Linked DNA regions of Homo sapiens: all the other regions are linked to region 1. The links come from fine-mapping of genetic effects on gene expression. A gene starts in region 1. Each other region holds a variant in brackets. All regions are shown on one strand. Distances are between the middles of the regions. Region 1 holds the start of ZNF688 (zinc finger protein 688). Region 2 holds the start of ZNF668 (zinc finger protein 668). Region 3 overlaps KAT8 (lysine acetyltransferase 8).

Region 1 (2,752 bases):
GTAAACAGGATTCAGATCTCCTAAAAGTGCCTTATCTGAGCCTTGGTTCCTTATGCATCAAATGGGAATAATAATGGCTTTTGACTTCACAGCGTTACTGGTTTAGCTGAGTAGATGCATGTTAAGCACTTAGGAAGTGCTCAGGAAGCAGGGGCTATTATTTATTTATTTATTTATTTATTTATTTATTTATTTATTTATTTTTGAGACGGAGTCTCACTCTGTCACCCAGGCTGGAGTGCCTGGTTGGACTGGGCTCCCAGTCCTCACAGGACCGCTGTCCCATGTTCTGAAAACTTTGTACCAGGTCTGCCTTCTTTACTCCTCTAGTACCCAACACAGTTGAATTTCTTTAGGGATGCTGGAAGTGGGGGCCTGAAAAGAAACTCTGCTAGACAGGAAGCCCTGGAAAACCAAGTGGGGGGACCCGGGACTATCCCTCACCTCTCCGAGCTCCTCCCAGTCTTTCCCCCTTCTCAGGATCCTGGGCGGCGGGGCTCCAAGCCTCACTCTCCTGTTCCATCCAAGAGATGAGGGCTGGTTTGGGGCCTGGGAATCCTGGGAGAGAACAGGGATCACAGCGCGGGCCTGAGAGGCCATCGTGGGAAGATGGCATTCCCCTCCAGGCTGAGGGCACCCCCTCGGAGCTTATACTCAACCTGGAAGGGGCTGCAGTGCTGCTGCCTGAATGAAATGGATGCGGGTGAAAACACTCCCGAGGGGGTACCTGAAGCCCTGGGAACGGGAGGTGGCTGCTGGTGTTGGTGCAAGAGTGCGGGATTAGGGCTCACAGTCCTCTCGGCCCTTCTACATCATCTCCCCTGTGAACCCGGTGAAGGAGGAGGGGGCTCGGACCCGGGGCTCTCACCGAGCGCGCCCAGGTGGCCGTAGGTCTCCTGCATCACGTCCCGGTACAGAGCCCTCTGCGCGGGCCGCAGACAGCCCCACTCCTCCGGGGAGAAGTACACGGCCACGTCCGCGAAGCTCACAGTCCCGGGCTTCCTGCAACCAGGCCGGGTCTCCCCGGGCCTCGGCGCCAGGAGCGGGGCTGGGGGCGGCGCCATGGGGCCTCGCAGCCCCGATCGGCGGCCGCCAGGTCCCTGGAGCCGCCGCCTCCCCGCTCCCGGCCTCAGCTGTCGTTGTCCACAGGAAGGGCGGCCCCGCCCAGCCGTGGCGTCCGAACGCAGCCGAGGCAACCGAAGTAGCAGGGACTGGCTGCTAGGGATTCGAGGATTCTGATAGGGACAAATATAATTCCTCAGTGTTTATTCACTTCATGGCCGCTTGGACATAGACACCCGGGTTAAGGGACCCGGAAGGTGCCTTCTGAAAATATGGCGACCACCCTTCAATTGTCACAGGCTGCTCTTAAGGGCGCCATTATTTGACCATATCAAATATGGAGCCTTTCTGACTTCTCTGGCCTCATCGTCCCACTTGCCCTTAAATAAAGCCGCTTCGGCTGCTTTTTCTAGTGGGGGAGGCGGGGTGTCTGGGAAGTAGAGGAGAGGCTTCTTGCCTTCAAGAAAGATGTAAGGGCCCGAAGCTTCACTTACCCCTCTGTACCCGCAATACGCAACGGCCGATGATTGGCGACGATCCCGGAAGAAGCTGCGCGGTGATTGGCCTGGGACTGGCGGGGCATTTGAAGGGACCCCGCGGTCCTGAAGCCTCTGTTGACAGACTGGAGCGCAGCGGAGACCTCGGCATCTGCGGTGCTCGGGATTGTGTCCCCTACGGTCTCTTACCGTGCCTCCCGATGGCGGGAGCTGGAATTTGGTCCCCAGACCCCTTGGGAAGACGCGCACACCCTGGCAAACCATGTGTACACCCGCGGTAGAAGCAGGTGCGTGTTTTACAGTAGCTTAGCTGCGGAGTCCACCCAGCCCCTGGCATCCGCAGCTCGGCTCGCTCAGGCTCTAGACCGAAGCTGCAGGCGAAGGAACGTGCTTGGTGAGGATGGAATCGGAATGGGGAAGTTTTAAATTAAATAGTAATTGTTGCTAACATACATGAATTTATTTTTTGTTTGTTTTGAGACAGGGTCTTGCTCTGTGGCCCAGCAGTGCGATCCTAGCTCACTGCAGACTCGACCTCCCGGGCTGAAGCGATCTTCTCACCTCAGCCTCCCGAGTAGCTGGGACCACAGGCGCACACCCAATGCTTGGCTAATTTTTAAATTTTAAAACAGAGACAGGGTCTTGCTATGTTGCCCAGGCTGGTCTGGAACTCCTGGCCTCAAGCAATTCTCCTGCCTCGGCCTCCCAAAGTGCTGTGATTACAGGCATGCGCCACGGTTCCCAGCCATTTCTACTTTTTCTTTGAGAAGGAGTTTTACTCTTGTTGCCCAGGCTGGAGTGCAATGGCGCTATCTCGGCTTGCCCAGGCTGGAGTGCAATGGCGCTATCTAGGCTCACCGCAACCTTCGCCTCCCAGGTTCAAGCGATTCTCCTGCCTCAGCCTCCCAAGTAGCTGGGATTACAGGCATGAGCCACCATGCCCGTCTAATTTTGTATTTTTAGTAGAGACGGGGTTTCTCCATATTAAGTCAGGCTGGTCTCGAACTCCCGACCTCAGGTGATCCTCCCGCCTCAGCCTCCCAAAGTGCTGGGATTACAGGCGTGAGCCACGGCGCCCGGCCCTGCCATTTCTACTTATTTACGTTGTTCCAAATTATCAAAGATAGCATCAACTTTCAAATCCTAATTTTTTTTTTCCTGGGAAACCTTCCTCCTTTAGCCTTCAGTCTCCT
Region 2 (2,752 bases), 500 kb after region 1:
GACGTCATAAGGGTATGGCCCTGGTCCAGTAGGATTAGCGTTCTTATGAGAAGTGACACCACAAAGAAACAAGCTTACTAGTCACGGTCCCAGCCAGTGTTCAAATCCCAAACACCTGCTCTCTGAGCCCTGACTATTGCTTTGCTAGCATTACACATCTTATGGTTTGGCTGTTAATTCTTCATCACCAGCACCAGAGTCCAGGCTGGCAAAGGGCTAGGAAACCGATCATCTGCCTCCTCTACACCCAGAACCCTGTGTGGTGACCCAAAACAAATGGAAAGAACCAACCTCAGATGAAATTTGAACCCAGGTCTGTAGCCTCTGCCTCCTCCACAGTAGGAGTTTGTGAGAATGTCCACCAATAACTGTTTATTAACTAAATTCCTCCACCTTTCCAACTCCACAAGGCTCAACTATTGCCCCAATATCCCACAGTGGGCTCCCTGTCGTGGCGATGAAGCCTTGCTTTGCCTCACTACTGGCTTAGGAAGGGGATGAAGTTCTGCTGTCTCACTAGGCAAGCAAAGATTCAATTTCCAAAAATCCTAGGCTAGGACCCTGGGGCAGGGATGAGGAGAAAAAGGAGGCACCTCAATCTTCCCATCTCTAAACAAGCAGTCACCACACAGGCCTCACGGCCAGGAGTGACGTAGTGAGCGGATGAACCCTGCAGAAGTGAGCGCTAATCATATCCTAGGCCTCCTACCGGGCCAGTTCACAACCTGATCCCAACCTACTTTTCCAGCCTCAGCTCCAGCGACAGAGTCCTCCTCCCGGCAGCGACCGAACCTCCAGCCACAATTCTCAATCCTCCACCTCTAGATGCAGTTTCCTGGGCTCGGGGAGCCCTTGCCTGCCTTCTCCAACGGGAAAGCCCCTTTACATCCTTCAAGAACCCCCTTCCCTAGTGCCCTCAGGAATACTTTATGGCAGTAGAGAGGTAAGGGCCCCACGCCGCTCTGGACCTCAGTTTCCTCATCAGTAAAATGGGGTCCCTTAAGTTTGTGGGAGTTTGAAGGGCGGTGGGGCCTACGAAGCGCGCCGAGGAGCCGAGAGTTGCAGAAACCCGGAGCTCCTCGCTCCTCGCAACCGTCTGTACGCGGCGCCCCCGCCAGCCAGGCAGCCCCTGGAGGGCAGGACCCCGGTTATAAGCCTCAGAAAACGTGGCTTCGGAGGACGTGGCAAGGAGGACTGAACGAAGGATGAGGAGATGAACAAATGAATGGACGGAAGGCCGAATGAGGGACAAAGGCTTGCAAGATGGCGTTCTCTAGGACCGCGGGAGTGGTGGCCGGGCCTCAGCAGGGGAGGGGGCCGCCGGCGCCTGGGATCTTGCAGCGC[G/A]GGCCACGCGACCGGGACAAAAACCCAAAACATGGCGGGCTCTAGGACCCCCGGGACCACACCGCGCCGGGCCAGCAGCCGCGCGGGCCGAGCCTGGGTGTCCGCAGCCCAGAACCGCGGAGACAGCCGGCGGGTTCTAGGACCTGCTGGGCCCGCAATGCGCCCGGGGCCGCTCACAGCCCGCCCCGCCCGCGCTGCTCGCGCTGGGCCAACCCGGCCCGCCCTCGGCGCCCGCAGGGAAACTGAGGCCAGCTCGGATCGTGGCCGCGTGGGAGCTGCCCGGGGCCCTCGCGGCTTCCCGCCGACGTTTCCTACCTGATGAGACTTGTGCTGACTCCGTGGCGTCGGCGTCGGCTCCTCGCACCGACGGAGCCCGGACCCTGCCAAACAGGGGCCGGCGCTAGGACCCAGCGGGGGGCGGGGAGGTGGGACCGGTGGCGCGGCGAGCGGAAGTGAGGGATCTTCCTCAGCTAGGAAGGAAGGGAAAGTTCCCGGGGAACCTCCAGCCTATGGCGGCAGAGAAGCATCTTGCAAGAGGTCTCTGTGTGTGCTGAGGCAAGGGGACGCCAGGCAGGCTGACGGTATACGCCCGCCTTGTGTTAGTCTGGGGCCAGGTCACCGGCAATGTCTTCAAGAACCAGAAGGTGGGAGGACAAAAAGGCCATGCTCAAGCTCTGCAAAACCTAAGTCCAATTATATTCCACAACATTTCCTTTAATAGCAAGGAGTGGGTTTCACGAAGTTTTCTCCATCTGCCTTGGGAAAAGTCCTCCAGAGAGCCCCACGAAAAGTGTCACCAAAGTACTGTGGCCAGGGCTGTAGAATCTTTTTCTCCCTTTCTGCGCCTATTCAATATGCACCGGAACGATTCTAGCTGCTCTTGCCGGAAGTGTGGCTAGCTTAGCGTGCAAAGACGCCGCGTTGTGACCTACGTGGGCGGAGTCAGCCGTGCAGACCTAGAACTTAGCGCCGGAAGTGTGTCTGCGTAAAACTGCGGCTCGGAGGCGGGACAGGCAGTGCTCCCGAAGCGGAAGTTTCGCGGGGAAGCTTTTGCACCTAAGGACACTTCCTGTTTCCTAGTAACAATAGGAAGTGTCCGTAGAGCTGGGAGTAGACTCCTGGCTCATGCCAGCTGCGCCCTCTTTTCTCTACCTCCTTCCTCTTCCCCCCTTCTCCTTTCCCTCTTTCCCTTCCCTCCCACCTCCCGGGAACCCTGGCTGAGTGTGCGTGTGTGGGAGCGCGAGAGCCCCCCGACAGCCACCCCTTGGGGCGCGCGGCTGCAGTTAGGGTAAGGGTCCCAGTGCGCAGGCGCGCTCTTGTTCGCGGTCCCCAACTGACGCGCCCGCGGCGGGAAGGAGAGGGGGCCGCCGGTGCGAGGTAGGCGTCCTGAGAGGAAATTGGCAGACGA
Region 3 (2,752 bases), 550 kb after region 1:
GTATTTTGTGAGAATTGGGAAATGTGTTTTAAAGAGATGTGTGAGGAGGAAAATCTTTCTTCCTCATCTTTACAGTGGTTAGGTTCAGAATTGGACAGACCAGGGGCCCATGCCCAACTCTGCTGAGTACCAGTTCTGTGACCTTGGGCAAGTGACCTCACCTCTTTGTGCCTCAGTTTTCTCTCATACAACAGGGACAATGAGCACTCTTATTTCAAAGGCTCATTGTGAGGAACAAAATGAAATAATGTCGGCTGGGTGCAGTGGCTCATGCCTGTAATCCCAGCACTCTGGGAAGCTGAGATGATTGGATCATTTGAGGTCAGGAGTTCGAGATCAGCCTGGCCAATATGGTGAAAGCCCGTCTCTACTAAAAATACAAAAAGAGGCCAGGCGCAGGCAGACCACGAGGTCAGGAGTTGGAGGCCAGCATGGCCAACATGGTGAAACCCTGTCTTTACTAAAGATACAAAAAATTAGCTGGGTGTGATGGTGCACACCTGTAATCCCAGCTACTTGGGAGGCTGGGGCAGGAGAATCGCTTGAACCCAGGAGGCGAGGTTGCAGTGACGTGAGATTTTGCCATTGCACTCCAGCCTGGGCGACAGGGCGAGGCTCCATTTCAAAAAAAAAAAAAAAAAAAAGGCTATGGCTCATGCCTGTAATCCCAGCACTTTGAGAGGCCAAGGTGGGTGGATCATCTGAAGGTCAGAAGTTCAAGACCAGCCTGGCCAACATGGTGAAACCCCATCTCTACCAAAAATACAAAAAATTAGCCGGGCTTGCTGGTGGGCGCCTGTAATCCCAGCTGCTTGGGACACTGAGGTGGGAAGATCGCTTGAACTCAGGAGGTGGAGGTTGTAGTGAGCCAAGATTGCACCATTGCTCCAGCCTGGGCAACAAGAGCAAAATTTCATCTCAAAAAACAAAATAAATTAGCTGGGAATGGTAGCAGGCACATGTAGTCTCAGCCACTTGGGAGGCTGACGTAGGAGAATCACTTAAGCCCAGAAGGCAGAGGTTGTGGTGAGCTGAGATCTCCCCACTGCACTCCAGCCTGGGCGACAGAGTGAGAGTCTATCTCAGAAGAAAAAAAAAAAAACATGTCTGTGCCGTGCTTGCCACTTGGAATAAATGGCAGCTCACTAGTCCCCGAGGGTAAGGGACCTCACCTTGCCCTGCCTGTTTACTACTCTGTAAAATTGAAATAACGCAGCTGGGTGCAGTGGCTCACGCCTGTAATCTCAGCACTTTGGGAGTGCGAGGCTGGTTGATCACCTGAGGTCAGGAGTTTGAGAACAGCCTGGCCAACATGGCGAAACTCCATTGCTACTAAACATACAAAAATTACCTGGATGTGGCGGCATGTGCCTGTAGTCCCAGCTACTTGGGAGGCTGAGGCAGGAGAATTGCTTGAACCTGGGAGGCGGAGGTTGCAGTGAGCCGAGATGGTGCCACTGTACTCCAGCCTGAGCAACAGAGTGAGACTCCGTCT[CA/C]AAAAAAAAAAAAAAAAAAAAAGAAATAACACTCTATGTAAGGGTTACTGAAAGGATTAAATGAGGCCATATAAACATATAGGCACAGTGCTTTGTGGAGGGGGTTCTGGGTAAAGCACTGGCTCCTTCCTCCCTTCTCAGCTACAGGGCAGGGCCTTGTCTGCCCTGGTGTAGGTCATGGACCGTCTTGGGTCCCCCTTCCATTGTCAGGCTGTACTGGGTTCCTCCCACAGGGTCTGGCCTAGGAGCAGGATGTGTTGTGAGTGTGGTGTGACTCTTAGTCTCTGCTTTCTAAGGACTTGAAAAATAGAGGAACCCAGGTGGGCATACTTGGACAGTGTTGCCCTGTTGACCACTTCTCGCTGAACTTGGGAAGGAGGGAATGTTTTCTGGATGGGAAGAATCCAGTCAGGCCTCCTGGAGGGGGTGGTAAGAATCTCAAGCCTTGAAGGATGGGAAAGAGCACAATAACAACAGTGACAAAGGATAGATCACAAAGCATCATGGACTCACCTGACTCATGCTCCGTGCCAGGCTGAGGAAGTGTTTTCTGCTGGCAGTGAGAGAAGGAAGGGCATTCTCCAGGTAGAAGGAGCTGTTTGTGCAGAAGCATGAAGGCCGCTAAAAGGGGGCTGCTGATAGCAATGAGGAGGCTGGGGCTGGAGGCAGGGAGTCTGAGGCGGCCTAGTAAATTGTCCAGACCTGAGATGGGGCCATGACTACCTGGAGCAGGACAGAGAGGAGAATTCCAGAGAGGGCCCAATTCCAGAGATGTCAGAAGTAGACTCGACATCCACTGTATTAGGACTTGGCCAGGCCGAGGGAGAGAGAGTAGTCTGAGGCAAGCCTAGTTATGGGTCTTGGACACTGGGACCAAGGGTGATGTTCCCAGTAAAATGAGCAACCCAGGAGGAGGCGCAGGTTTGCAGGGAGGAGTGATGAGGTCCTTTCTGCACATCTTGAGTCCGCTGTCCCTGTGGGAGGGACCTCTGGGGCAGTCGCATGGGCAGGCAGGGTCTGGTCCTCAGGAAAGGGGTCCAGGAACATCGGGGAGGTAGTAACAGTTCTTACGCTGGGCCTGGAAGGCAAATCTGTTATTTCATTTGAGTCTCACAACTTTGGCAGAGCTGGATTGCCCCCCATCGTGCAGCTGAAGCCCCATCCTGATCCTAACCCTGTTCATCTGGCAAAAGGTCCAAACTTGGACATCAGGGATGTCTGGGATATCGGGGGTGGGGCGGGTGGGTGTGAGAGGA

Evidence for each region.
Region 2: its variant is fine-mapped to the expression of ZNF688 in whole blood (INTERVAL, PIP above 0.99).
Region 3: its variant is fine-mapped to the expression of ZNF688 in whole blood (INTERVAL, PIP above 0.99).

What each region holds. Positions count from the first base shown.
Region 1 is chr16:30,570,566-30,573,317 of GRCh38, forward strand. It overlaps ZNF688 (zinc finger protein 688), which reads right to left and starts at 1,149. Exons shown (of 3, transcript NM_145271.4): 1 at 869-1,149; 2 at 445-558. The coding sequence starts at 1,064. RefSeq lists an enhancer at 1-54 and a silencer at 917-1,156.
Region 2 is chr16:31,072,000-31,074,751 of GRCh38, forward strand. It overlaps ZNF668 (zinc finger protein 668), which reads right to left and starts at 2,241. Exons shown (of 3, transcript NM_024706.5): 1 at 1,660-2,241. ZNF646 (zinc finger protein 646) reads left to right here and starts at 2,423. Exons shown (of 3, transcript NM_014699.4): 1 at 2,423-2,632. RefSeq lists enhancers at 1,117-1,917, 1,209-1,503, 2,123-2,656, 2,162-2,301, 2,657-2,752 and a silencer at 1,392-1,851. The variant G/A (reference allele first, on the strand shown) is at 1,345.
Region 3 is chr16:31,124,108-31,126,859 of GRCh38, forward strand. The region is part of intron 3 of KAT8 (lysine acetyltransferase 8); the gene reads left to right. Among named protein-coding and RNA genes, the nearest start is that of KAT8, 7.8 kb to the left of the region's middle. The variant CA/C (reference allele first, on the strand shown) is at 1,496.